2 linked regions of the Homo sapiens genome follow. The protein of the gene in region 1 interacts with the protein of each later gene in a biochemical or structural test. Each region holds a gene or a part of one and is shown on either strand. Other genes may lie near its edges.

Evidence for each region.
Region 2: the proteins of TGS1 (region 1) and NOP58 form a complex in vitro, tested with the Homo sapiens proteins (one study listed by IntAct).

The regions. Positions count from the first base shown.
Region 1 is NC_000008.11:55,769,044-55,781,953, forward strand, and holds the start of TGS1 (trimethylguanosine synthase), read left to right. Parts: upstream 1-4,402; 5' UTR 4,403-4,575; coding exon 4,576-4,676; intron 4,677-12,910. UniProt on the Homo sapiens protein: Catalyzes the 2 serial methylation steps for the conversion of the 7-monomethylguanosine (m(7)G) caps of snRNAs and snoRNAs to a 2,2,7-trimethylguanosine (m(2,2,7)G) cap structure.
Region 2 is NC_000002.12:202,286,674-202,299,181, forward strand, and holds part of NOP58 (nucleolar protein 58), read left to right. Parts: intron 1-986; coding exon 987-1,051; intron 1,052-3,649; coding exon 3,650-3,784; intron 3,785-4,451; coding exon 4,452-4,597; intron 4,598-4,643; exon of another isoform or gene 4,644-4,755; intron 4,756-6,103; coding exon 6,104-6,230; intron 6,231-6,377; exon of another isoform or gene 6,378-6,461; intron 6,462-9,000; coding exon 9,001-9,164; intron 9,165-10,705; coding exon 10,706-10,840; intron 10,841-11,171; coding exon 11,172-11,233; intron 11,234-12,508. UniProt on the Homo sapiens protein: Required for the biogenesis of box C/D snoRNAs such as U3, U8 and U14 snoRNAs. Part of the small subunit (SSU) processome, first precursor of the small eukaryotic ribosomal subunit.

The sequences.
Region 1 (12,910 bases):
GCCAGGCACAGTGGTTCATGCCTGTAATCCCAGCACTTTGGGAGGCCAAGGCGGGTGGATCACTTCAGGTCAGGAGTTTGAGACCAGCCTGGCCAACATGGTAATGCCGTCTCTACTAAAAACACAAAAATTAGCCAGGCATCATGGTGCATACCTGTAGTCTCAGCTACTTGGGAGGCTGAGGCACTAGAATTGCTTGAACCCGGGAGGCAGAGGTTATATAAGCCGAGATTCTGACAGTGCACTCCAGCCTCAGGGACAGAATGAGAATCCCATCTCAAAAAAAAAAAAAAAAAAAGATAGGAGAAAATACACCCATGTTCAATGTCAACGATAATTCATCAATGGGAGTGAGAAACAGATGATGTAGGAGAGGAGATAATTGTTAGAGCTCTGTCCTTGACTAGGCCAAAGGGGACAGGATACAATGTACAAGTGGATGGCCCTGAGAAGTTTGTGCCAGATACTATTCTAAATATATCAGTAAATAAAATAGTTATCTAAGAAAACATACGAAAAACACTTACTTTCTGGCACATAGTAGGCACCTAACAAATGCTGGCTAAATATACAACTGAACTGTGTTCGTCTAAAACTTTTTTTTTTTGAGACAGAGTCTCACTCTGTCACCCAGGCTGGACTGCAGTGGCTCGATTTCAGCTCACTGCAACCTCCACCTCCCAGGCTCAAGCAGTTCTCATACCTCAGCCTCCCGTGTAGCTGGGACTACAGGCAAGCACCACTGCACCCAGCTAATTTTTGTATTTTTAGTAGAGATGGGGTTTTGCCATGTTGGCCAGGCTTGTCTGGAACTCCTGGCCTCAAGTGATCCGCCCGCCTCCACCTTCCAAAGTGCTCGGATTGCAGGCGTGAGCCACCCTGCTTGGCCTCATCTAAATCTTTAACAGAAATCTGGATCAAAACAGTATCCTAAAACCTGCTACTAGAGAACTATCAGAGGAATTTGAATAAAATGCCTTTCAGTAGATAAAATGTAGCACTTACTTTTGATAATATGACAAAGTGTCTTTAAATCTCAATGCAACCCCTTAATTGTGCAGATAACAAAAAAAGTAAACACAGAAAGCCAAGTTTGCTTGCTTAAAATTACTAAATTAATTCAGTAAAAGCCAAGAACTAAAATTAAAATCTAGTCATCTTACCTCCTGGTCTGGCTTCCAACACACTTTCTTTGATATATCTCTCTTTTTCTCTCTTGACAGAAAGAAAATATTAAGATTGCAATTTCTGTCTTCCCTATACTTCTGCCTGGCCCTTCCCCTTCCCCCTGAATTTACCTGGGGGTGTAACTGACTTCTTATCACTTTATTTTAATCCAAGAAAAATGACATGGGCCAGGGTGGCTCACGCCTGTGATTCCAACAGTTTTCGAGGCCAAGGTGGAAGGACTGCTTGAGTTCAGGAGTTTGAGACCAGCCTGGGGGCAACATACTGAGACCTTGTCTCTACCAAAAAAAGGTTCGCCAGGCATGGTGGCACGTTCCTGTAAGTTGCAGCTACTTGGAAGGCCAAGGCAGGAGGACTGCTTGAGCCCGTGGAGTGAAGACTGCAGTAAGCTATAATGATCACACCACTATACTCCAGCCTGGGCAACTGAGCAAGACCCTGTCTCGGGGGCAGGGGGGAACTCTATGTACTAGAAGATGTTTTGGGGGAAATACAATATTTTAGTTCTCAAAATTCCAGGTTATTTTCTACAGCCCCCTGCTCCTAAAAATCTAAAATAAACACAGTCTAATGCATCACATATAAAGTATCTTAATTTCCCTATCTGGAAATCACGTAACTTTTGTAAAAACAAGTAGACAAGGCCACGCGCGGTGGCTCATGCCTGTAATCCCAGCACTTTGCGAAGCAGCGGCAGGAGGATCACCTGAGGTCGGGAGTTCGAGACCAGCCTGACCAATGTGGAGAAACCCTGTTTCTACAAAAAATACAAAATTATCCAGGTGTGGTGGCGCATGCCTGTAAACCCAGCTACTCAGGAGGCTGAGGCAGAAAATCGCTTGAACCCAGGAGGCGGAAGTTGCGGTGAGCCAAGATCGCACCATTGCACTCCAGCCTAGGCAACAAAAATGAATCTCCGTCTCCAAAAAAAAAAAAAAGTTGACAAGCTCAAATATCACCATATTGACATTGATGGTGAGGATATGGACCTTACAGATGTTTAAAATCAGAGTATTTCAAAAACTAATAAATCAGAACAGAGAACTTTTTGGCTTTCAATAAAACCTTAAGAAAGTGTATCTATTTTAGGCTGGGCTCAGTGGCTCATGCCTATAATCCTAACACTTTGGGAGGCTGAGGCAGGCAAATCACTTGAACCCAAGAATTCAAGACCAGTCTGGGCAATATGGCAAAACCTTGTCTCTACAAAACACACACACACACACACACACACAAAATTAGGCAGGCATGGTGGCATGCCTGTAGCCCCAGCTACTCGGGGGGCTGAGGTAGGAGGATTGCTTGAGCCTGGGAGGTAGAGGTTGCTGTGAGCCGCGATCGCGCCACTACACTACAGCCTGGGTGACAGAGCAAGATCCTGTCTCAAAAAAAATAAATAAATAAATAAATAAAGTATATCTATTTTGAACACCCATTACCAGTACTTTTCCATTTTACTTTTAGTATATAAGTCACATTGAGAACATTCTGAAAATGCCAATTAAAAGATATAGTCACTGAAAAACAAGTTTTCCTGTTTCCTTTCTGCATATTTAATAATGGTTTAACAGAGATACAGCACTGTTTTACTGAATAGGACTTCTACTTCAAACCATGAATAAAGCTGCAATTTAGTATTTGTCAAGATAGCTGGTAAATCTAATCCTTTTAGCTTTAATACTTTTTTTATTTCAAGCTTTAAACTCGAGGTTCTGATACAAATTACCCTTCAAGACTTTTCTTTAATCCTAGAATGCCCAACTTCTAGCTAAAATCTTCCACTCTGTTTCATAATTACTGTTCTACCCTTATTATCGTAACCCAGCTACTCATCCCAATAATGCTGCACATCTATACTGGTATATCTGTAACCGTGCAGCACTCTTACCTTCTTGAACCAACAAAATCAGCCTATCTCCGACCTCAAAGTAGGGCAGCAGTAAGGAGGTGGGAATAAACATTTGAAAATGAATATTTCCACTAACTAGTAAATGTGGCCAAAATACTATTGAAAATACCATTCAAAATGCATGAATTTTAGCTCAGTTTTTATATAGTTCTGAAGAAGTACCAATACTATTTTGGCATTTCGTAGCACCAACCACGTCCGAAGCGCTCCAACTTTCAAGTCTGAGCTTGTCTCTGAAGAAGTTGCCCGTGCAGCCTCCATGAATACCACACACCAAATACTAACTGCTTTTTAACAGATCCAGCAACGCTGCTGTTTCCATTTTCTCCATCCTATTTATGCCCACATGAACTTTTTTCTTATTAGATAATTAGTAACTTGAAGGCAGAGACCTGTTTTACAGGCTGCAAACCCCAGGGACCGAGACAGCACTTAACGCCTACAAGGTCCAAACCGACGCCAACGATTAAGCGCACAAAGGAAAGGTGTAATATACATCATTTCGTTTAGTCCTCCCTGCAGCCTCATGTAGTAGTTACTATTAATCAACCCCATTTCACAGGTGATCAAAGGTAAGCTCAGAAAGGTGAAGTTGCCTGCCCAGGTCACAAGGTAGGACCAGGATTCCAAGCCTGATCGGTCTGGATACGAACGCTCTACCCACGCGGCTTTCCCCCTACACTCTCGGGATCACCACACACTTCCCCTTGGCTTTTACACCGGAGGCTCGACCTGGGTCCCGGAACCAGCGAAGCCACTGGGCAAGCCTAGAGGCCTCTACAGAGGCTAGAGACGCCTCGCCCCACCAGATGCATTAGGATGAAACGCGCCGAACCGAAGGTTTAGAGCGCCAGGGGAGAAGAGGGGCGGGGAGAGCAGGCTCTTTGACCCAGAGGAGGGAGGATCTCCACACCCGGCCACTCTGGCGCTGGGGCGCAACACTGAGGCCGGCGGGAAGCCGAGCCTGCCCGCGAAGAGACTGGGGATTCCGAGGCGGCTCCTGGGAGACCGGACGCGCGCGGCCTCCGCCGCTCCCAGTCCCGCCAGACCCGATGCCGGGCTGGAGAAGCGCGGGGGCCGACGCACCTCGGATAGGCGGGGGCAGGGGCAGGGGCAGCTCTCCTTTACCCTAGAGCGGCGACAGAAGCTCTTCGGGGGATCAGTGGCCAAGGGGGCGGACAGATTTGCACGGCGGATTCCTCCGAAGCAACCCGTGTGAAAGAAGCCAAGCGGCGGCTGCAGCCCGGGCCGCGATGGGGGTGACACCGCCCGTGGTCCCGCCCCTTCCCGTGGCCCCTCGGAGCCACTTCCGGCGGCAGCGTCCGGGCTAGTTCCCGGCGCGAGCGGCCGCGGGCCAGTTTCTATCTCCTCATCCAGGGCTTGCGGGCGAGGCCTGTTTTAAGTCTCCAGTAACCGAGCGGAGGCCCGGCAGGCGCGACCCGGGCTGCGTACGTCAGAGCTGCCTCCGAAGTGGTAAAATGTGCTGCGAGAAGTGGAGCCGCGTGGCGGAAATGTTTCTCTTCATTGAGGAGCGGGAGGATTGTAAGATACTGTGCCTTTGCTCCAGGGCATTTGTGGAGTAAGTAGAAAAGAGAATCTCTTCATGTTCTAGCACAGTCATTACCCAGAAATGTAGGTATTGCAAACGTGGTTGTAATTGATCCCTGAAAGCAGCCAGAACATCTGACCCTTGGGCACGGTGATGTTTAAGAAAAACAAAACCCTCAGACATGACGGAGTGGTCGCCCACTGCCATTATTTTTATGTGAAGGACTACATCTACTTGGTAGGCTGCTATGAAAAAATGTCGTAGGTGCTATATGTCATCTCATATTTGTAAATCGAGGGGACATTTAAAAATTGGGGGAAAGCGACATGTAAAATGAAATCTCTAGTAGATATGATGTCATAAAGTGAAAGTTTAAAGTTGAGTGACTTGCTTTGGTTAACGTCTTTTTTTAAACCTAAAAATCTACTTAAGCCCAAATGCACATAATTAAAACTTCAAACTAGTTGAGATAAAAGACTTAACCATATTTACATCAGTTTTTGTGATATCTTTATTTTGGGGAAATCTTTGAATCAGGTAAAAATTGCCCCACATGAAAAATAGCTAGTATGCAGGAATAATACCGCCAAGAGACTTGAATTCTAGGAATTGTTTCCTTTATATTAAATGCGTGAGTTAAACCACTTGAACCTTTTTTTCATCTCTATAACGGGTATATTTAATCTCACATGCTTATTTTGTTAGAGTTAAATCCTTGTGGAAGTGAATTTTATGTGATAGACTTTTAATATAGTTTAATATAGTAGGATTTAAGTTTGAAGGAATTCATTTTTCTCGTGTAATTTTGTGGAGTAATTTGAAAACGCAAAAAGAAGTTAAACTTGTTAAATTTAATGTAAAAAGTATTGTCGCCTTTTTAGTCAGGCATGCATGTAGTCATACAATCATTCAGAAAATGTTTTTTGTGCTCTTGTATATCAAGTATGCTGGTAGGCACTGAGGTACAAGACATTCTGTCCTTACATGTATTGAGTTTACTTCCTAGCAGAGAAGATCAATATTAAGATAACTGGTTACATTATTACTTGGTTGATTATAGTTATAAGTGCTATGAGAGAGAAGTGCAGGATGCTGTGAAAACAAATAACTTTCCAAGGGTCACAGAGGTTTCTTTGAGGAAGTAGCTTTTGGAAAGAGGTCTAAGGGGGATAAATTGGGGTGAGTTTCAGTGGGAGAAAGCGTTCTCTGCAGGCTGAACTCAGTAAAGGCCTTGAGGGAGCAAAAGAAAGCCTGGGAAACTGAACAAAATGGCTGGGAGGGAGGGCACGGTGGTGCACACCTGTAATCCCACCACTTTAGGAGGCCGAGGAGTGAGGATCACTTGAGCCCGGAAGTTGGAGACTAGCCTGGGCAACATAACAACACCTCATCTGTACTGAAATTTTTTTTTAAAATTAGCCAGCTGTGGTGGCACATGCTTGTAGTCCCAGCTACTCTGGAGGCTTGGGCCAGATGCTCTCTTGAGCCCAGGAGATCCAGGCTGCAGTTAGCCATTGTCGTGCCTGGATGACAGAGCAAGACTCTGTCCCGAAAAAAAAAAAGAAAAGAAAAGAAAGAAAAGAAAAAAAACTGGGAAAGAAAGAAGATAGGGTGTGCACAGTAGGCAGGGTCAAAACCCGCAGGACTTTGTAGACTATAGGAAAACCTTAAGCTGGGGAATGACATGATCAGATTTGCATATTTAAAATACTACTCAGGCGGCAGTGTGGAGGATTGTTTGGAGGAAGAGAACCACTTAAGACCATTGTTTAGGCAAGAGATTATAGTGACTTGGATTAGGATAAATGGCAGCAGAAATGGAGAAAGAAAGAAAGATGGGAGAAAACTTGCTGGGGGTGGGGACTGAATTGTATTGCTGCCTTTCACTGAGGTAGGGATCACTGGAGAATCATGAATTTTATTTTGGGTCAACGGAGAAGAGATTATGAGTTTGATTTTATACATTTTGATTTGGGGGTATCTATGAGATAACCAAGAGTAGATGGTATAAGCAGTTAGATATATTGATTTGGAGCGCTGGAGAAGTCTGGGCTAGTTTTAAAAACTTGAGCCATTTAGCCTTAGATAGTGATTGAACCCATGAATGAAGGGTGGGGGAGGGGGACCCACCTTTGAGGAATTCCAGCACTTTTTAAAGACAAGAAGAGATGGATTAACTAGGAAACAGACAAGCCTAAGTACACTGTCACCAAGTGTTTCAGTGAAGGTGTAATCAACATTGGAAAGCTGCCAAAATATCAAGCAAAATGAGGACTAAAAGTATCCACTAGAATTGACTAAATCCCTTGGATCGATTGACTGTAGCAGGAAGAACCGCAGACAAAACCCCTCAGACACCAGGTTAAAGAAGGAAGGGGTTTATTCGGCCAGGAGCATCGGCAAGACTCCTGTCTCAAGAGCCGAGCAACCCGAGCGAGCAATTCCTGTCCCTTTTAAGGGCTCACAACTCTAAGGGGGTCTGCATGAGAGGATCGTGATTGATTGAGCAAGCAAGGGGTACGTGACTGGGGGCTGCGTACACCACTAATTAGAAAGGAACCGAACTGGACAGGGGTCTTCACGGTGTCTTTTTTTTTTTTTTTTTTTTTGAGACAGAGTCTCGCTTTGTTGCCCAGGCCAGAGTGCAGTGGCGAGATCTCTGCTCACTGCAAGCTCCACCCCCTGGGTTCACGCCATTCTCCTGCCTCAGCCCACCAAGTAGCTGGGAATACAGGCGCCCGCCACAATGTCCAGCTAATTTTTTGTGTATTTAATAGAGACGGGGTTTCACTGTGTTAGCCAGGATGGTCTCTGTCTCCTGACCTCTGATCCACCCGCCTTGGCCTCCCAAAGTGCTGGGATTACAGGCGTGAGCCACTGTGCCCGGCCCAGTGCCTTTTTTATGCAAATAACCGATTAGGTCAGGGGTGGATCAGTAACTACCAGGCCCAGGGTGTGGCGCCGGGCTGTCTGCTTATGGATTTCATTTCTGCCTTTTAGTTTTTACTTCTTTCTTTGGAGGCAGAAATTGGGCATAAGACAATATGAGGGGTGGTCTCCTCCCTTAGATGACTTATTAAGTGCCACCACTAATTGTTCTACATTTTGTACTGACAGAGACTCTCCTTAACCAGACTTTACACAGGCTCTGAGTGAGCTCTCCTTTTGATTAGGCCTTGTCATTTGGGACTTGTCTTCAACCTGTCTGGTCCAGTTTTAACAAGAATCCTTCTAAGTCCATTAGTTTTTTTGTTTGTTGGTTTTTTTTTGGTGGTGGCGGGGTGGTTCTTGGGTGTTTTTTTTGTTTTGTTTTTTGGGTTTTGGGAGGTTTATTTTGAGACTGGGTCTCACTTTGTCACCCAGGCTGGAGTGCAATGGTACAATCACAGCTCACTGCAGCCTCAACTTCCCTGGCTCAAGCAATCCTCCTACCTTAGCCTCCTGAATAGCTGGGACCACAGCTATGCACCACCATACCTGCCTGATTTTTTTATTTTTTGTAGAGACAGGGATCTCACCTTGTTGCCCACACTGGTCTGGAATGCCTGGGTACAAACAGTTTTCCCACCTCAGCCTCCCAAAGTGCTGGGATTACAGGTGTTTTTTTTTTTTTTTAGCCAGAATCCTGCTAAGTCCATGTAGCAAGATCTTCCCACCCTTCGTATCTGATCGCTCTGGCCTGCCCTCAGCAAGAATACTGTTGGTATAGCAACAATCCCCCCATGCTGGATGTCTCCCCTTAGTAATTTTCCATCCACTGACCACGCCCCCTGAATTTTGCCCATTGGCTATCTTCAGCTGTCTTTGCTATATTTGAAGTTGAGCAAAATTTCTCTCCATTGCCATTATCTTTTTTTTTTTCTCTTTTGAGACAGAGTCTCACTCTGTCGCCCAGGCTGGAGTGCAGTGGCATGATCTCGGCTCACTGCAACCTCTGCCTCCCAGATTCAAGCAATTCTCGTGCCTCAGCTTCCCAAGTAGCTGGGATTACAGGAGTGCACCACCATACCCGGCTAATTTCTGTATTTTCAGTAGAGATGAGGTTTTACCTTGGAGGCTGGTCTCGAACTCCTGACATCAAGTGATCTGCCCGCCTTGGCCTCCCAAAGTGCTGGGATTACATGCGTGTGGCTACCATTATGTTGATTACTATCGCAATTATCCTAAATAAAGCCTTTCTTTACCATTTTAACAAATGTCAGAATAATTTAAATTTTTTTTTTTTTTAATTTAAGCCTTCTAGCAGCCCCCTGAGGTATGTCTTGTTATCCTCACTTATTCAAGTAGAAAATTGAGTCTTGGCTGGTTGTGGTGGTTGACATCAGTAATCCAAGTACTTCAGGAGGTTGAGACAGGCAAATCGCTTGAGCCCAGAAGTTCAAGACCAGTCTGGGCAACATGGCGAAACCCCATCTCTACTAAAAATACAAAAAATTAGCCAGGCATGGTGGGGCACTCCTGTAGTCCCAGCTATTCTGGAGGCTGAGTCCAGGAGGTGGAGGCTGCAGTGAGCCATGATCGTACCACTGCACTCCAATCCGGGTGACAGAATGAGACCCTGTCTCAGAGTCTCAGTAGTGGCCTAAAAAAAATCACATAGCCAGTAAATGGCAGCCTTAGAATTCTACCGCACATCTGTATGACATGAGAGCCTTTCTACTATGCTACCAGTTGGCATAGAACATGATTTCATTGAATCTCCCTCATTAAGGTATTTAAGTAGTCTAAAGTCACTAGAACAACTGATGTTCTGTTCAGACACTTTAACATTAATATAGATTCGTGGAGATAGAGGACTATTCTGGAAACTGAAGAGCCTATATTTCCCTCTGATCATACTCATGTGACAGTGTCTGATGGTGATCTCTAGTCTTTCATATATGATACAACGAAATTGTTTGATATGTTTTCCCCCCAACAGGTTCCTGAGTCAGAATTTAAAAGAGTAGTGACCTTATAGACAGCATATCTGTGTGCTTTTACAAAACTCAGCTGTGTGGCCTTAGGCAAGTCACATATTATTTCTGTGATCCCCTTTTAACCTTTCAGAAAGGGCTTCCTTTCCATTTTACTACTTGAAAATGAAGCTGATTCACAGTCCCTTTGCAAAAGAGGAATTGCTACTTGTACTTCAGATATTGCTAAGAATCTTATATTCAGCATTTATTTCAGCCGCCCGAGTGTCAGGTGCTGCAATAGAAAGATGACTTAGGCATCATAGTGATGATTGCTATATTCAGAGGTATGAGGATAAGAATTCAGGTGGCTGCTTAGGGCTCTAAGGAGAGCAGTATCTTAGTGGGATTACTACAATCCAGGTTGGGTCTTCTGCTTTACAATTCAAGTCAGTAGTTAAGATTTATTTAGTCCTTACGTGTGCCAGGTCCAGAAATTACAACAAATCTTCTATTTTTGAGGCCATCAATTCATCCAGAGTCATTATGCTCTGTGGATTAAGGTACACTAATCAAACTCAAAGACAGCTTTATAGAGACTACTTAGCAAGTATAATGGAAATTCTTCAAATGCCAGGCATTAGAAATACATCATTCCCGGTGATGAATGCTCTTGGAGATACTTGAAAGTTTTAAGTAAGAAACAGTTTTCATAAAAATATAACAGCTGGTAATCTCTTGTTGCTGATCTTTCTGCCTCAAATTATCAGCAGCCTTGGAACATACGGTAATAACCTTGGACATCTGATTTACCTCTCACCCATGAGGAAAGGCCTTTCTGCCTCTTTCTCAGGACCTGACCTGTTAAGCTGGGCCCATCCTCCAGAAGGCTTACAGGCTAGCACTGTGGTGGGACCAAAAAGCTCACTAGAAAAAAATACCTGGCTCTTTGTAGGAGATGCAGGCCAGGAAAGGAAAGTCACCTTGCAGTCAGTGGCAGCCCAGGCTACATGCTTAATTCACGGCCCACAGTATGATCGGGTACTGATGCTACTTTTAGGAAGCCCTCCTTCTAAAAGAGAAGAAAGAATATAAGTTATGAAATATAAAAAGTTGAGAAGATTTCTCAACTCACACCTCTAGAAAATAATACACAATTGGATTTGAATCAGAATGACTTTTAAAACACTATTTAATGACCATCTTATCAATTCCATTGAATTTCATCTTTTTGAACTGAAACATGTATGCTTTTCATTACAAATAATTTCATATGTATTCTTTTTTTTCCTTTTTTTTTTTTTCTTTAAGACAGAGTCTTGCTCTGTCGCCCAGGCTGGAGTGCAGTGGCAACCTCCACCCTCTGGGTTCAAGCAGTTCTCATGCCTCAGCCTCCCAGGTAGCCAGGACTACAGGCCCACACTACCACACCCAGCTAATTTTTGTATTTTTAGTAGAGACAGGGTTTCACCATGTGTGCCAGACTGGTCTCAAATTCCTAGCCTCAAGTGAGCCACCCACCTCAGCCTCCCAAAGTGCTAGGATTATAGGCATGAGCCACCATGTCTGGCATGGCTTTTTTTTTTTTTTTCTTTTTTTTTTTGAGTCAGAGATTCGCTCTGCTGCTGAGGCTGGAGTGCAGTAGTATGATCATTGCTTACTGCAGCCTCAGCCTTCTGGGCTCAGGTGATTCTCCCAGCTCAGCCTCCCATATAGCTAGAACCATAGGTGTGCACTACTACACCTGACTAATTTTTTTTGTTTTTTCTAGAGGTGGGGTCTGACCTTGCATAACCTGGGTCTGTCTGATGTTTCATCAGGAATAGTTGGGTCATGCCTTAGCAGGAGTGCCACAGAAATGATGCTATGCCCAGCTCTGTGTGGCCTCAGGAGGCACTTTTTGTAGACAGTATACCATCATGGGTGATGTTGCTGAATGCCAGGTTTTCTACTGTAAAGTCACAATAGTTCCCTTTGTATTAATCAGTATTTTGTGGGGGCATATTCCAGTGTTATATCAGTATCCTGTTTTCCAGTAAACCCACAAGCCTTGGCCTTCATTGATAACTTCCCCCTGAATCAGCTACCTCTGTGAAGGATGCCAAGGAGTAGTTCTTGTCTTCTTCGCTCCTACTGCATTTATTAGTTAGTATTCTGTAAGGAGCGCTTTCCCTTCTCTCCCCATGTATTTATTCATTTATGTTAACATGGAATCTAGATTCTTAGTTTACTAACAGGTTATATTCCATTGCTAACATTAATTTGGTGCTGATATTGTCTCTGATTTGGCCAGAGTTCCCAGTGGGGAACTCTTTGAAGTGGCTCCTGTGTCCTTTTGGTATTTCTAGTGTTGAGTGCTTCCTAATCTTCTGGCATAAGATGACCCAGGTTTATCTTTTACAGTTCATGCTCCAACCTGGAATTGTCATTTCTCCGGGCAACTTGGTTCCTTTCGTGGAAAATAGTATTTAGAAACCAAAAGCTGGCTGCTCATTGTGCTTATTGCTCCTGTGCCCTCTTAGTAGAGAGAGTTGAGCAGTGTTATATATGTGTGTTTTACACGCATACATGAATGTGTCTGTGTATATATACACACATATGTAACACTTTTAAAAACTATTTTTATGTCTGCTGTGTATATAAACTTAAATGCCATGAGTTTATAACAGTACTTCTAATGTTGGCCCAACACCTGAGGGTTCTTTCTAGCCTTCCTTCCTATCAGATAATGTCTTGAGCCCACCTTGCTTTTAAATAACCTTCTTCATTTCTATTTAAAAAAAAACCAAAAATTTTTTATTTAAAAACATTAAAATAAATTTTAAAATAATAAAGTAAATAAGTAACCTTCAACAAGGGGAATCTTGGCTAACATTATCTTCAACACATTTACATATTTGCTCATTATAACCAACTTGCAACCAACCATACTGGTCCTCTCCTCCACCTGACACTTCAGTGCCTCATATCTTTAGGTGCTGGCGGGCAGACCAGTGATGCCCCCTGTGCAGCTCCTGCTTCCCACCCCCAGTGCCCATGTTCCTGGGGACCAGTTGCTGCCAAAGCACATTTGCACGTCACCCCCTTGCCTGTTCATCATCCTGCTGAGTCACCACCTACTTTACATTTAATATAGTATCTCCAAAAAAGAAGCAAGAGGATGTGAAATAGAGCAAGTACACTAGAATTTTATTTAGTTAAATTTATTGTAGCTCCATTAGAAAAGTTATGTTAGCTTCCACTTGCAATTGGCCTTCTTGTGGCAGTTACAGTGGAGTTTATTACAGCTGAATTTATAGTCAGGAAGATATTAAAAGCAGAGTCTTCCACTTTTTCTTAAGTATTCTGTTAGGTTTATTTTGGTAACCT
Region 2 (12,508 bases), on another chromosome or scaffold:
ACTGAGTCAAAAATCCAAACCTGGGTAAATCTGCATTGTGTATAGCAGTGGTTCCCTATCAAGGGCAATCAGATGTCCCCCCAGTAGGCATTTGTCTATGTCCATAGACATTTTTGGTTGTCACAATTGGAGGTGGGTTGGGGTCTGCCATGAGTATCTGGTGGATAAAAGTTAGGGATACTGCTAAAGGTCCTATAATGCACAGGGCAGCCTGTACAACAAGGAATTAGGCCCAAAATATTAATTGTGCTGAGATGAAAAAACATTTTTATACAGACAATATTGTTACTCCACAGCTTTCTGTTTTCAGATGTTAAGAGTCCTGCAAAGTTCCTAACTGGTAGTATAAAGCTTAATATGTGCTATTAAAAATTGCATGAACCAATATGGCTTTTTTTTTTTTTTTTTTTTTGAGGCGGAGTCTTGCTTTGTTGCCCAGGCTGGAGTACAGTGGCACGTGATCTCGGCTCACTGCAACCTCTGCCTCCCCGGTTCAAGCGATTCTCCTGCCTCAGCCTCCAGAGTAGCTGAGATTCAGGCGTGCCCCACCATGCCTGGCTAATTTTTATATTTTTAGTAGAGACAGGGTTTCGCCATGTTGGCCAGGTTGGTCTCGAACTCCTAACAGGTGATCTGCCCACCTCGGCCTCCCAAAGTGCTAGGATTACAAGCGTGAGCCACCACGCCCAGTCCAATATGACTTTTGTATTACACAGCTTATCCTATTTGTCATTCATACATAAACTCATTCATGTTACAGAAATAAAGGTCGTAGCAGCACATATAGTTTTTTTTTTTAATGTGTATTTTCTGTTCTCGTATGGTGCATTTCTACTTAGCTGATTTTTCTTCTTAGAAAAACCAATTACAGCTCTGACTACAGGCTGATTTGAGTAAAAACAAAAACAAAAAAAAACTTTAAGGTGTTAATTTAAATGCTTTTCCTAGATGCTATCTTGCTAATTTATTTTCCCCTTTCTTCCCAGCCTGTCTCGATATAGATTGAAGTTTAGCGCTGATAAAGTAGACACAATGATTGTTCAGGCAATTTGTAAGTATAGTACATGCAAAGTCCGATTTGTTGCTCTGTCCTTCATGCGTTTTCATACTGTTGAAACTATCTTTTATGATTCTGTCTGTTGAGAAAGAGAAAGGAGGCCAGGTGTGGTGGCTCAAGCCTTTAATCCCAGCACTTGGGAGGCTGAGGCAGGCGGATCACCTGAGGTCAGGAGTTCAAGACCAGCTTGGCCAACATGACAAAACTCTGTCTTTACTAAAAATACAAAAAAAATTAAATGTGCATGGTGGCGTGTACCTATAATCCCAGCTACTCAGGAGGCTGAGGCAGGATAATTGCTTGAACCCAGGAGGCGGAGGTTGACTATTTGGAGATTATATGAATCACAGAATTAACATTACGTTAATTAATTCATTTGTATTTTTCCATGAAAATGTTAAAAACATAAGTGCAATCTTTGTAGTTGTGTATTCTGCTGTGTCATTAAATGGTTTTTAGAAAGCTCAAAAGCTGCCAGGCACAGTGGCTCATGCCTGTAATCCCAGCACTTTGAGAGGCTGAGGCGGGAGGATCACCTGAGGTCGGGAATTTGAGACCAGCCTGACCAACATGGAGAAATCCCGTCTCTACTAAAAATACAAAATTAACCAGGCATGGTGGTGCATGCCTGTAATCTCAGCTACTCGGGAGGCTGAGGCAGGAGAATCACTTGAACCCTGGAGGCAGAGGTTGTAGTGAGTTGATCGTGCCATTGCACTCCAGCCTGGGCAACAAGAGCAAATCTCCATCTCACTAAAAAAAAAAAAAAAAAATCAAAATCTTAATCGTTTTTCTATTTTAGAAATGCATTCGGCCGTGGCTCACGCCTGTAATCCCAACACTTTGGGAGGCAGAGGCTGGTGGATCACCTGAGGTCAGGAGTTCGAGATCAGGCCAACATGGTGAAACCCGATCTTTAGTAAAAAATAAAAAAATTATCTGAGCATGATGGTAGGCGCCTGTAATCTCAGCTATTCAGGAGGCTGAGGCAGGAGAATCACTTGAACCTGAGAGGCGGAGGTTGCAGTGGGCCGAGATCGCACCATTTCACTCTAGCTTGGACAACATGAGCAACACTCCGTCTCAAAAAAAAAAACAAAGTATTCGGCTGGGCGCAGTGGCTCACACCTGTAATCCTAGCACATTGGGAGGCCAAGGCGGGTGAATTGCCTGAGCTCGGGAGTTTGAGAGCAGCCTGGCTAACATGGCGAAACCCTGTCTTTACTAAAAATACAAAAAAGTAGCCAGTCGAGGTGGCGTGTGCCTATAGTCCCAGCCACTTAGGAGGCTGAGGAAGGAGAATCACTTGAACCCAGGAAGCAGAGGTTGCAGTGAGCTGAGATCGCACCACTGCACTCCATCCTGGGTGATGGAGTTAGACTCTGTCTCCAAAAAAAGAAAAAAAAAAGCGCTCAACCAGCGATTCCTTTCCTAGATTTATACCCAAAAGAATTAAAAACAGAACTGAGTTGCTTGTACACCTATGTTCATAACAGTGTTATTTACAAAACCAAACAGTGGAAACAACCCAGATACCTTTTAACAGATGAATGGATAAACTGCATTGTGGATGCAGCTTGAATGTCCCTAATCTGAAATTCAAAATGCTCTGAAATCTAAAACTTTTTGTGGTACCACACAAATCCACAAGTGGAAAACTCCACACCTGACCACACGTCAAAACTTTGTTTTATGCACAAAATTATTTAAAATATTGTGTAAAATTACCTTCAAGGTTTTGTATATAAGGTATATGTGAAATGTAGATGCATTTCCTATTTAGACTTCGAGTTCCATCCTCAGCCTCATACGTGTTTGCAAATACTCTGAAATACTTCTGGTCCCAAGCATTTTGGGTAACGTACACCCAGCCACTTCACACAGTGGAATGTTAGTCAGCCTTAAAAAGAAATGAAATTCTGATACATATTTCAACATGATAAACCTTGAAAATATGCTAAGTGAAATAGTCACAAAATACTGCATGATTCTGCTTATATGAAGTACCTAAAATAGGTGAACTCAGAGACAGAAGTATAAAGATAACTAGAGGTTGGGGGGAAGGTGGGAATGAGTTACTGTTTAATGGGTACAGAATTTTTCAGTTTCTGATGATAAAATTGCTCTGGCAATAGATCCTGGTAATGGTTGCATAACATCATAAGAATACTTAATGCTACTGAATAGTACACTTGAAAATGGTTGAAGTGTTATTTTTTATTCTTTTTTTTTTAAATTTTTTGCGACGGAATCTTGCTCTGTCACCCAGGCTGGAATGCAGTAGCACGATCTCGGCTCACTACAACCTCCACCTCCTGTGTTCAAGTGATTCTTCTGCCTCAGCCCTCCAGAGTAGCTGGGACTACAGGTGTGCACCACCATGCCTGGCTAATTTTTGTATTTTTAATAGAGATGGGGTTTCACCATGTTGGCCAGGCTGGTCTTGAACTTCTGACTTCGTGATATGCCTGTCTGCTGGGATTACAGACATGAGCCACCGTGCCCAGCCTGAAGTGTTAAATTTTATGTTGTGTATGTTTTACCACAATAAATCCCTTTAAGTTTTGTTTGTTTGTTTTTAATCTACTACAGCCTTGTTAGATGACTTGGATAAAGAACTAAACAACTACATTATGCGATGTAGAGAATGGTATGGCTGGCATTTCCCTGAATTAGGAAAAATTATTTCAGATAATTTAACATACTGCAAGTGTTTACAGAAAGTTGGTGAGTAATTTGTTCATCCTTTAAGGCATTGAAAGTAAATGAATTTGATTGCATCCTAAAACATGACGTATAGCATTTTGTTAAGCAAGATTCCCAGGGTTTTTGCAATTTCTGTGTATTTGGGAAGTGTAGCAGTTTAGTGTCTTAAATTTAAGAAACAAAATGAATTTTAACTTAGATTTTGATGGCCTATAACATGATATTAGTACCTAATGCTAAATAGCAGTATTGCCGTCTGTACTGTTAATATACAGAGGAACTTGATTGTTGATTGTCGTTAACGTACAGAGGAACTTGATTGATTGATGGTTTACTTGCCTTACGAATTACTGGCCCCAGCTTCAGTATAAAATTGTCTGTGACATTATTATTAGTCCTGTCTTTTTTAAATTTTTGCCACTTATATTCTGTAATAAGTGTTGTGGCATATTTTGTCCTCTTTTTACTCTGATTATTTTTTGGAAGAAGGTGGTGGGGAGACATTTAATGTCTAAACTTAAACCCTTAAATGAGGAAAACTGTTATACTAGGTCAAACTTCTTCATTTTTTTTGTTTTGTTTAGGCATCCTTTTCATTGGCTTTCTACTTTTTCTTTTGACTATTTGCTGGATTTTATATAATTTGTTGAAGAGTGATTCTCCCTCATCCTCTGCAAACATTCCATAGGCGATAGGAAGAACTATGCCTCTGCCAAGCTTTCTGAGTTGCTGCCAGAAGAAGTTGAAGCAGAAGTGAAAGCAGCTGCAGAGATATCAATGGGAACAGAGGTTTCAGAAGAAGATATTTGCAATATTCTGCATCTTTGCACCCAGGTAAATTTTACTCCTGGAGAATCTAGTTGTGGTGTTACCAGCTCTATAGTACTAATTTTTCTGATGGCAATGATGATTTTTACACTTATTGTTGTTCACCTGATAACATAAATATGAGGGTGTTCAGTCACTACCTCATCTGATGCCATCATGATTTGTATACTTAAAAGGGGGAAATACATATTAAAAGGAAGTAATTTACAATCATCGTCTGAATAATGAATTAACCAAAAATCAATTAAGATGGCAGAGAAGGCCAGGCGCGTTGGCTCACGCCTGTAATCCCCGCACTTTGGAAGGCCGAGTCAGGGATTGACCTGAGGTCAGGAGTTCGAGACCAGCCTGACCAATATGATGAAACCCCCATCTCTACTAAAAATGCAAAAATTAGCTGCGCGTGGTGGCGTACACCTGTAATCCCAGCTACTCGGGAGGCTGAGACAGGAGAATCGCTTGAACCAGGGAGGGGGAGGTTGCAGTGAGCCGAGATGGCACCATTGCATCCAGCCTGGGCAACAAGAGCAAAACTCCATCTCAAAAAAAAAAAAAAAAAAAAAAAGGATGGCAGACAATTATGGATTGAGCCTTTTAATTCTGAGTCTTATGTCTATATCTTGTGATTTTTTTTTCTTTCAGATTTGAAGGTAGCCATATAGGAATTAAAAAGAGCATGATACAAATGTTTATTGCTCAGAATCTTTTTTTTTTTTTTTTTTTTTTTTTTTTTTTTTTTTGAGACAGAGTCTCACCCTGTAGCCCAGGCTGGAGTGCAGTGGCACGTTCTCAGGCTCACTGCTACCTCTGCCTCCCAGGTCCCAGTTCAAGCGGTTCTCCTGCCTCAGCCTCCCGAGTAGCTGGGATTACAAGCACGTGCCACCATGCCCAGCTAATTTTTGTATTTTTCATAGAGACGGGGTTTCACCATGTTGGCCAGGATGGTCTTGAACTCCTGACCTCATGATCCACCTGCCTCGACCTCCCAAAGTGCTGGAATTACAGGTGTGAGTCACTGTGCCTGGGCTGCTTAGAATCTTTTAAAAATACAGTTACGCTGACTAAGATTTTCAGGCAGTGGACCAAGTAGTTTACATACATTATATAACGAAGTCCTCATTACAGCCATCTTATAGAAAACTGATGTTAGGATCATGAGGTCAAGAGATAGAGACCATACTGGCCAACATGGTGAAACCCTGTCTCTACTAAAAATACAAAAAATTAGCTGGGCGTGGTGGCGGGCCCCTGTAGTCCCAGCTACTCCAGAGGCTGAGGCAGGAGAATCACTTGAGCCCGGGAGGCGGAGATTGCTGTGAGCTGAGATTGCGCCACTGCGCTCCAGCCTGGGAAAAAAAAAAAAGAAAACTGATGTTAGGCATAGGTGATGTACCCAGTACCCAGGGTTGTGTAGCTGCTCTTTCATAATTGAGGGCTCCAGTGTTTTAGACAGGAATTTTTACTGTTTTTACTCATATGATATTTGTGACTTAACTTTATTCCTTATACTAGGTGATTGAAATCTCTGAATATCGAACCCAGCTCTATGAATATCTACAAAATCGAATGATGGCCATTGCACCCAATGTTACAGTCATGGTTGGGGAATTAGTTGGAGCACGGCTTATTGCTCATGCAGGTGATGGTTTTAATGTAATTTGTAAATATGAGTGTTTGAAGTATTTTCTGGTTAGGATTTTGTTTACATCTTTAAACTACAGCTGTTAAAGAAATTTTAGCTGATAACACAAAAGTAGATGATATGTGGGAGATCACTAAGGGCCAAGTGTTCAATGATGATTTCTATTTGTTTGCCTGATTTCCTTTTGGATAATGAAGGCATCTTTAGTCACTACCTCTTCTGAGACACTTGTGGTCCATTGTTAGAAGTTTGTTAGGGTTAATTAGAACAATCGGATGAATGCAGGAGGATAAAACAGTTAACATTTTCATAATAAAAACTCACTAGACCTAGATTTGAATACAGTTTTAAGAAATCACTGTAGAGAAAGAAAAAAAAAAGAAATCACTGTAGAGGATTTGTGCCCTTGATTGATTACCTTAGTTTCACTATTGAGTGTGAGGATGTAATATATTTGACTTTCAAAAATATTTTCAACAACTGATTTATAATAAAACTTTGTATATGTGTATGGCAGTATTATAAGGATGATATGCTATAATTAAAATGCTATGTAATTGAATACCTACAAATACAATGAAGTACTGATTCATCATTTTTATGTTACTTGGAGACATTGTTATAATTCATCAAAAAAGATTATATCATCTGCATCAGAGTGTTTAAAATGGCATAACTCCTTTTTTTTTGTTTGAGACAGAGTTTCACTCTGTTGCACTGGCTGGAGTGCAGTGGCTCACTGCAACCTCTGCCTCCCAGGTTCAAGCAATTCTCCTGCCTCAGGCTCCCAAGTTGCTGGGATTACAGGCATGTGCTGCCACCATGCCTGGCTAATTTTTATATTTTTAGTTGAGACAGGGTTTTTGCCATGTTGGCCAGGCTGGTCTCAAACTCCTGACCTCAGGTGATCTGCGCACCTCAGCCTCCCAAAGTGTTGGGATTACAGGCGTGAGCCACTGCGCCCGGCCTGGCGTAACTCCTTTAGCTGCATCATTAATCAAAGGTTTCATTCAAATGCCCTCAGCTATAAGATCAGATGATTTCATTGTCTCTACCCATTTTCATAGGTATAGCTAAACTTGTAGCAGTAAGCAATGGCAGGGGTTAATAGAAGTATGTATTTGTTGGCCAGGCGTGGTGGCTCACGCCTGTAATCCCAGCACTTTGAGAAGCTGAGGTGGGTGGGTCACCTGAGGTCAGGAGTTCGAGACCAGCCTGGCCAACATGGTAAATAAAACCCCATCTCTATTAACAACACAAAAATTACCCAACCTTGGTGGCATGAGCCTGTAATCCCAGCTACTCGGGATGCTGAGGCAGGAGAATTGCTTGAACCCGGGAGGTGGAGGTTGCAGTGAGCCAAGATTGTGACATTGCACACAGCAGTGGTGACATTGCTTGCCTGGGTGACAAGAGTGAAACTCCATCTCAAAAAAAAAAAAAAAAAAAGAACTATGTATTTGTTACACTTTTAAAACTATGTCTAGTGCTTAAGTTCATAGTATTAATAGAGTCTGTTTTCTGACAGGAAATATTCTATACAGCATATCCAACTAAGCAGCATGTTGATAACAATAGTCCCCAGCTATTTATGGAGATGTATTCTAAGCTCCCCCCTCCAAGAATGTTTGAAACAGAGGATAGTACTGAATCCTATACTGTATATGCTGTTTTTTCCTAAACATACATATCTATAATAAAGCTTAGCTTATAAATTAGGTACAGTAGGATATCAACAACAGTCATAATATAACAGTTATAACACTATGCCAGCAGGGCCGGGTGTGGTGGCTTACGCCTGTAATCCCAGCACTTTGGGAAGCTGAGGAGGGTGGATCACGAGGTCAGGAGTTCAAGATCAGCCTGGCCAAGATGGTGAAACCCCATCTCTACTAAAAATACAAAAAAAAATTAGCTGGGTGTAGTGGTGGGTGCCTGTAATCCCAGCTACTCGGAGGCTGAGGCAGAGAATTGCTTAAACCCGGGAGGCGGAGGATGCAGTGAGCCAAGATCGCGCCACTGCACTCCAGCCTGCGCAACAGAGCGAAACTCTATCTCAAAAAAAAAAAAAAATGCAAGCATAACTATTTTTGTGCATTGGTTACTTGAATATAAGCACTGCAGTACTGCACAACGGAGAGGGCTACGAAAGTGACTAATGGGTAGATAGAGATGATTCATGTCCTGGGGGGAGCTGAGTGGGATAGCAAGAGATTTAAAACTTAGGAACTATTTATTTCTGGAATTTCCTTTTTAATATTTTCAGACTGCAGTTAACCACAGGTAATTTACCACACAAAGTGAAAGCACAGGTAGGGGACTATTAATAGATACTTGTAGGAATATCTCTTCCTAATAAATGTGTTTATTTGTAGGCTTTTTCATATCTAAAGCAATAGAATATTTGATACAATCTCAGAAAGCAGGGACCAGATTAGTGTTCGTGTGTGTGACATTTATGTCACTCCTGTAGTATACTAATGGAATTTAGAATAGTACTGCCATCTCTCAGGTGAATAGAAACATTGAACTTAATAAGCTTAGCCTTCAGTTTGTCCTAGGCATTCATTGCAAACCTGCTTGTGCTAATGAAGGAATTACAAATGAAACATCAAGATTTTTAGGGAATTCTGGATTATAGAATTCTATATTATATGTGATTTTTATTTATTATGGTGGCTGTAATAATTCTATAGGTCTTTTGTTTCAGTACGTGGAACATTCATATATTTGGAGGTGCATTCTTTGTAACTTTTTTCTTTTGTAGGTTCTCTTTTAAATTTGGCCAAGCATGCAGCTTCTACCGTTCAGATTCTTGGAGCTGAAAAGGCACTTTTCAGAGCCCTCAAATCTAGACGGGATACCCCTAAGTATGGTCTCATTTATCATGCTTCACTCGTGGGCCAGACAAGTCCCAAACACAAAGGAAAGGTGTGTTATAGGGTTTTGCTTTGTTTTTGAGGTTAGACTTTTTCATTTTTTACAACCCATTTTTCTTCTACTCTGTAGTACACATTAAATCTTCTATTGTCTCTTTCTTGTTAAATAGGGAATGGTGAGTTATTTAAATAAAAAGTGCTTTGTGTACACTGAAGGATAAGGTTAGAAGAAACTGTTATTGGTTGGATTAAAGCCAGTTTCTTCCATTGTGTTAGTATTTTTTTCCCCCCTAGAATCTCCCTGTGGTTGGCACACTGAAAATACTATCTCTGGCAGCAAAAAAAAAATCTAACATTTACGAATCATAAAAAATAGCATATGCATTATGCTAAAACACTTTGAGAGAAGTCACTAAACTTTTTTTTTTTGAGATGGAGTCCCGCTCTGTCGCCAGGCTAGAGTGCAGTGGCTTGATCTCGGCTCACTGCAACCTCCAGCTCCCTGGTTCAAACGATTCTCCTGCCTCCCTGCCTCAGCCTTCTGAGTAGCTGGGATTACATGCACGTGCCACCACGCCCGGCTAATTTTTGTATTTTAAGTAAAGACCAGTTTCACCATGTTGGCCAGGCTGGTCTCAAACTCCTGACCTCCTGATCCACCCACCTCGGCTTCCCAGAGTGCTGGGATTACAGGTGTGAGCACCTGTGCCTGTCCTAAATCTTCAGTAGCCTTATGAGATGTAGGTATCTCTATCTTGCAGATGATGAAACTGAGGCTTAGACAAGTTAAGTACTTTCAATGTTTTTGAAAGATGTGTCGTTTAACAGATCTAAACTGAAAATTGATAAAATTTAGAGCAGAGTGGTGGAGGAAAATAAAGCGTTCAATAAAATAAAATGTTAATTAGATTGAAAAAGAACCCACGCTTTTTTTTGTTTGTTTGTTTGTTTGTTTGTTTGTTTTTTGAGATGGAGTCTCACTCTGTCGCCCAGACTGGAGTGCAGTGGTGCCATCCCGGCTCACTGCAAGCTCTGCCTCCCAGGTTCACGCCATTCTCCTGCCTCAGCCTCCAGTGTAGCTGGGACTACAGGCGCCCGGCACCACACCTGGCTAATTTTTTGTATTTTTAGTAGAGACAGGGTTTCACCGTGTTAGCCAGGATGGTCTCGATCTCCTGACCTCGTGATCCACTCGCCTCGGCCTCCCAAAGTGCTGGGATTACAGGCGTGAGCCACCGCGCTCGGCCAGAACCCGCACATATTTAAGATTGTTACGAGGAAAAAGATGCACTTCTTTTCAGTGACCTCATAGCACAGAACTAATGTCACTGAGTAGAAACTAAAGTTTAAAAATATTTTTTAAAAAAACCTAGTTTGAGCTAATATTTGACATGAATTGCTGTAAAATCTTTTCAGCCACAGAAGTGTTGGTGGTGATATATGGCCATTAGATTGTGGCAAAGGTTGAAATACGATGGATGATTTGAATTGTATGATTCATAATAGTTTTATAACTCCTGATTTTAAAACATCCAAGTTATTGAGGATTTTACATCTGAACATGGAATATAGTTCTTCATGTTTTTCTATTAGATTTCTCGAATGCTGGCAGCCAAAACCGTTTTGGCTATCCGTTATGATGCTTTTGGTGAGGATTCAAGTTCTGCAATGGGAGTTGAGAACAGAGCCAAATTAGAGGCCAGGTTGAGAACTTTGGAAGACAGAGGGGTAAGAACTACATCATGCCTATTCCAGAAGTATTACTTGTCAAAAGTTAATAAACTGAGTAAATTTATTAACTTCATCTGCTAAACAGTTTTATGATACTTATTAGTATGTCTAAAGTATTCTTTTTGTGCCTACTGTTAACAATTGCTATTATTTACCAAGAATTGATGTATCCAACTGCATTTGCCATTAGGATATGCTATTCAAAATAACAAAACAAAAAATAGCAGAAATTGCTGTTTGCTGGCCCACTGATTCACTAGACTGTATAGTGTATTATAAAGAGATTATGACTTAGAAGTGTATTTGTAATTTTTCGTTTTCTTCTTAGATAAGAAAAATAAGTGGAACAGGAAAAGCATTAGCAAAAACAGAAAAATATGAACACAAAAGGTGAGTACATTTAAGTGAGGATGGGGTGAATAGTTTTTTTAAATGTTAATTATTGACAGTAATTTTTTATTGTAAACTTCACCTTGATGTGCCCATAGTTTTTTCAAATTTATTTATTTGACCAAAATTGTGTATGTTTATTGTGTGTATGTTGTTTTGGAAAATGTGCACATTGAGGAATGATTAAGTCAAGCTCATTAACATGCATTGTCTTATGTACTTTTTTTGTGGTGAGGACACCTTAAAATCTACTTAGCAATTTTCAAGAATATAATACATTGTTAGCTGTAGTTAACCATGTTGTGCACCCCTAATTTTTTTCCATGCCATTTAGTTTTCCGCATTAACTTCTACTAGTTTTCATTCATATACATATTTAATTTATTCATTTCCAGATATTGATAGTAAATTTTTTTAATCTAAAGTTCCTCTATAATATGTTCTTTATCAAAAAGTTCACTCAGCCGGGCACAGTGGCTCATGCCTGTAATCCCAGCACTTTGGGAGGCTGAGGCAGGCAGATCACCTGAGGTCAGGAGTTCAACACAGGCCTGGCCAACATGGTGAAACCCCATCTCTACTAAAAATACAAAAAATTAACTGGGTGTGGTGGCGGGCACCTGGCTGAGGCAGGAGAATTGCTTGAAACCCGGGAGGCGGAGGGTGCAGTGAGCTGAGATCGCGCCCCTGCACTCCAGCCTGGGCAACAAGAGCAAAACTCCGTCTCAAAAAAAGTTCATTCAGAGTTAATCCCTACAGAAACCTATTTTGTAAAAAGTATAAAGACAGAAAACAAGTCTAAAGATGGCTGAGGCATGACAAAGCATTCAAACTTAACTATCAGATTAACAAAAGATTTGTATGTGGAGGGGTATTTGGGTTATTATTTGAGGCAATGCTCAATGCTGGTGAGGTTGTGATGATGCAGGTAGAATGTGGCACAGCTGTTCTAGGAAGCCATTTCACAGTATGTATCAAGATTCTTCAAAATGTTCCTAGTCATTAACCCAATAAATTATACTTTCAGGAGTCATAATCCTTCAAGATTTTTTTTTTTTTTTTTTTTTTTTTTTTGAGACAGTCTGTCTCTGTTGCCAGGCTGGAGTGCAGTGGCACGATTGCGGCTCACTGCAACCTCTGACTCCCCGGTTCAAGTTATGCTCCTGCCTCAGCCTCCCGAGTAGCTAGGATTACAGGCATACACCACCACATCCAGCTAATTTTTGTATTTTTAGTAGAGTCGGGGTTTCATCATGTTGGCCAGGATGGTCTTGA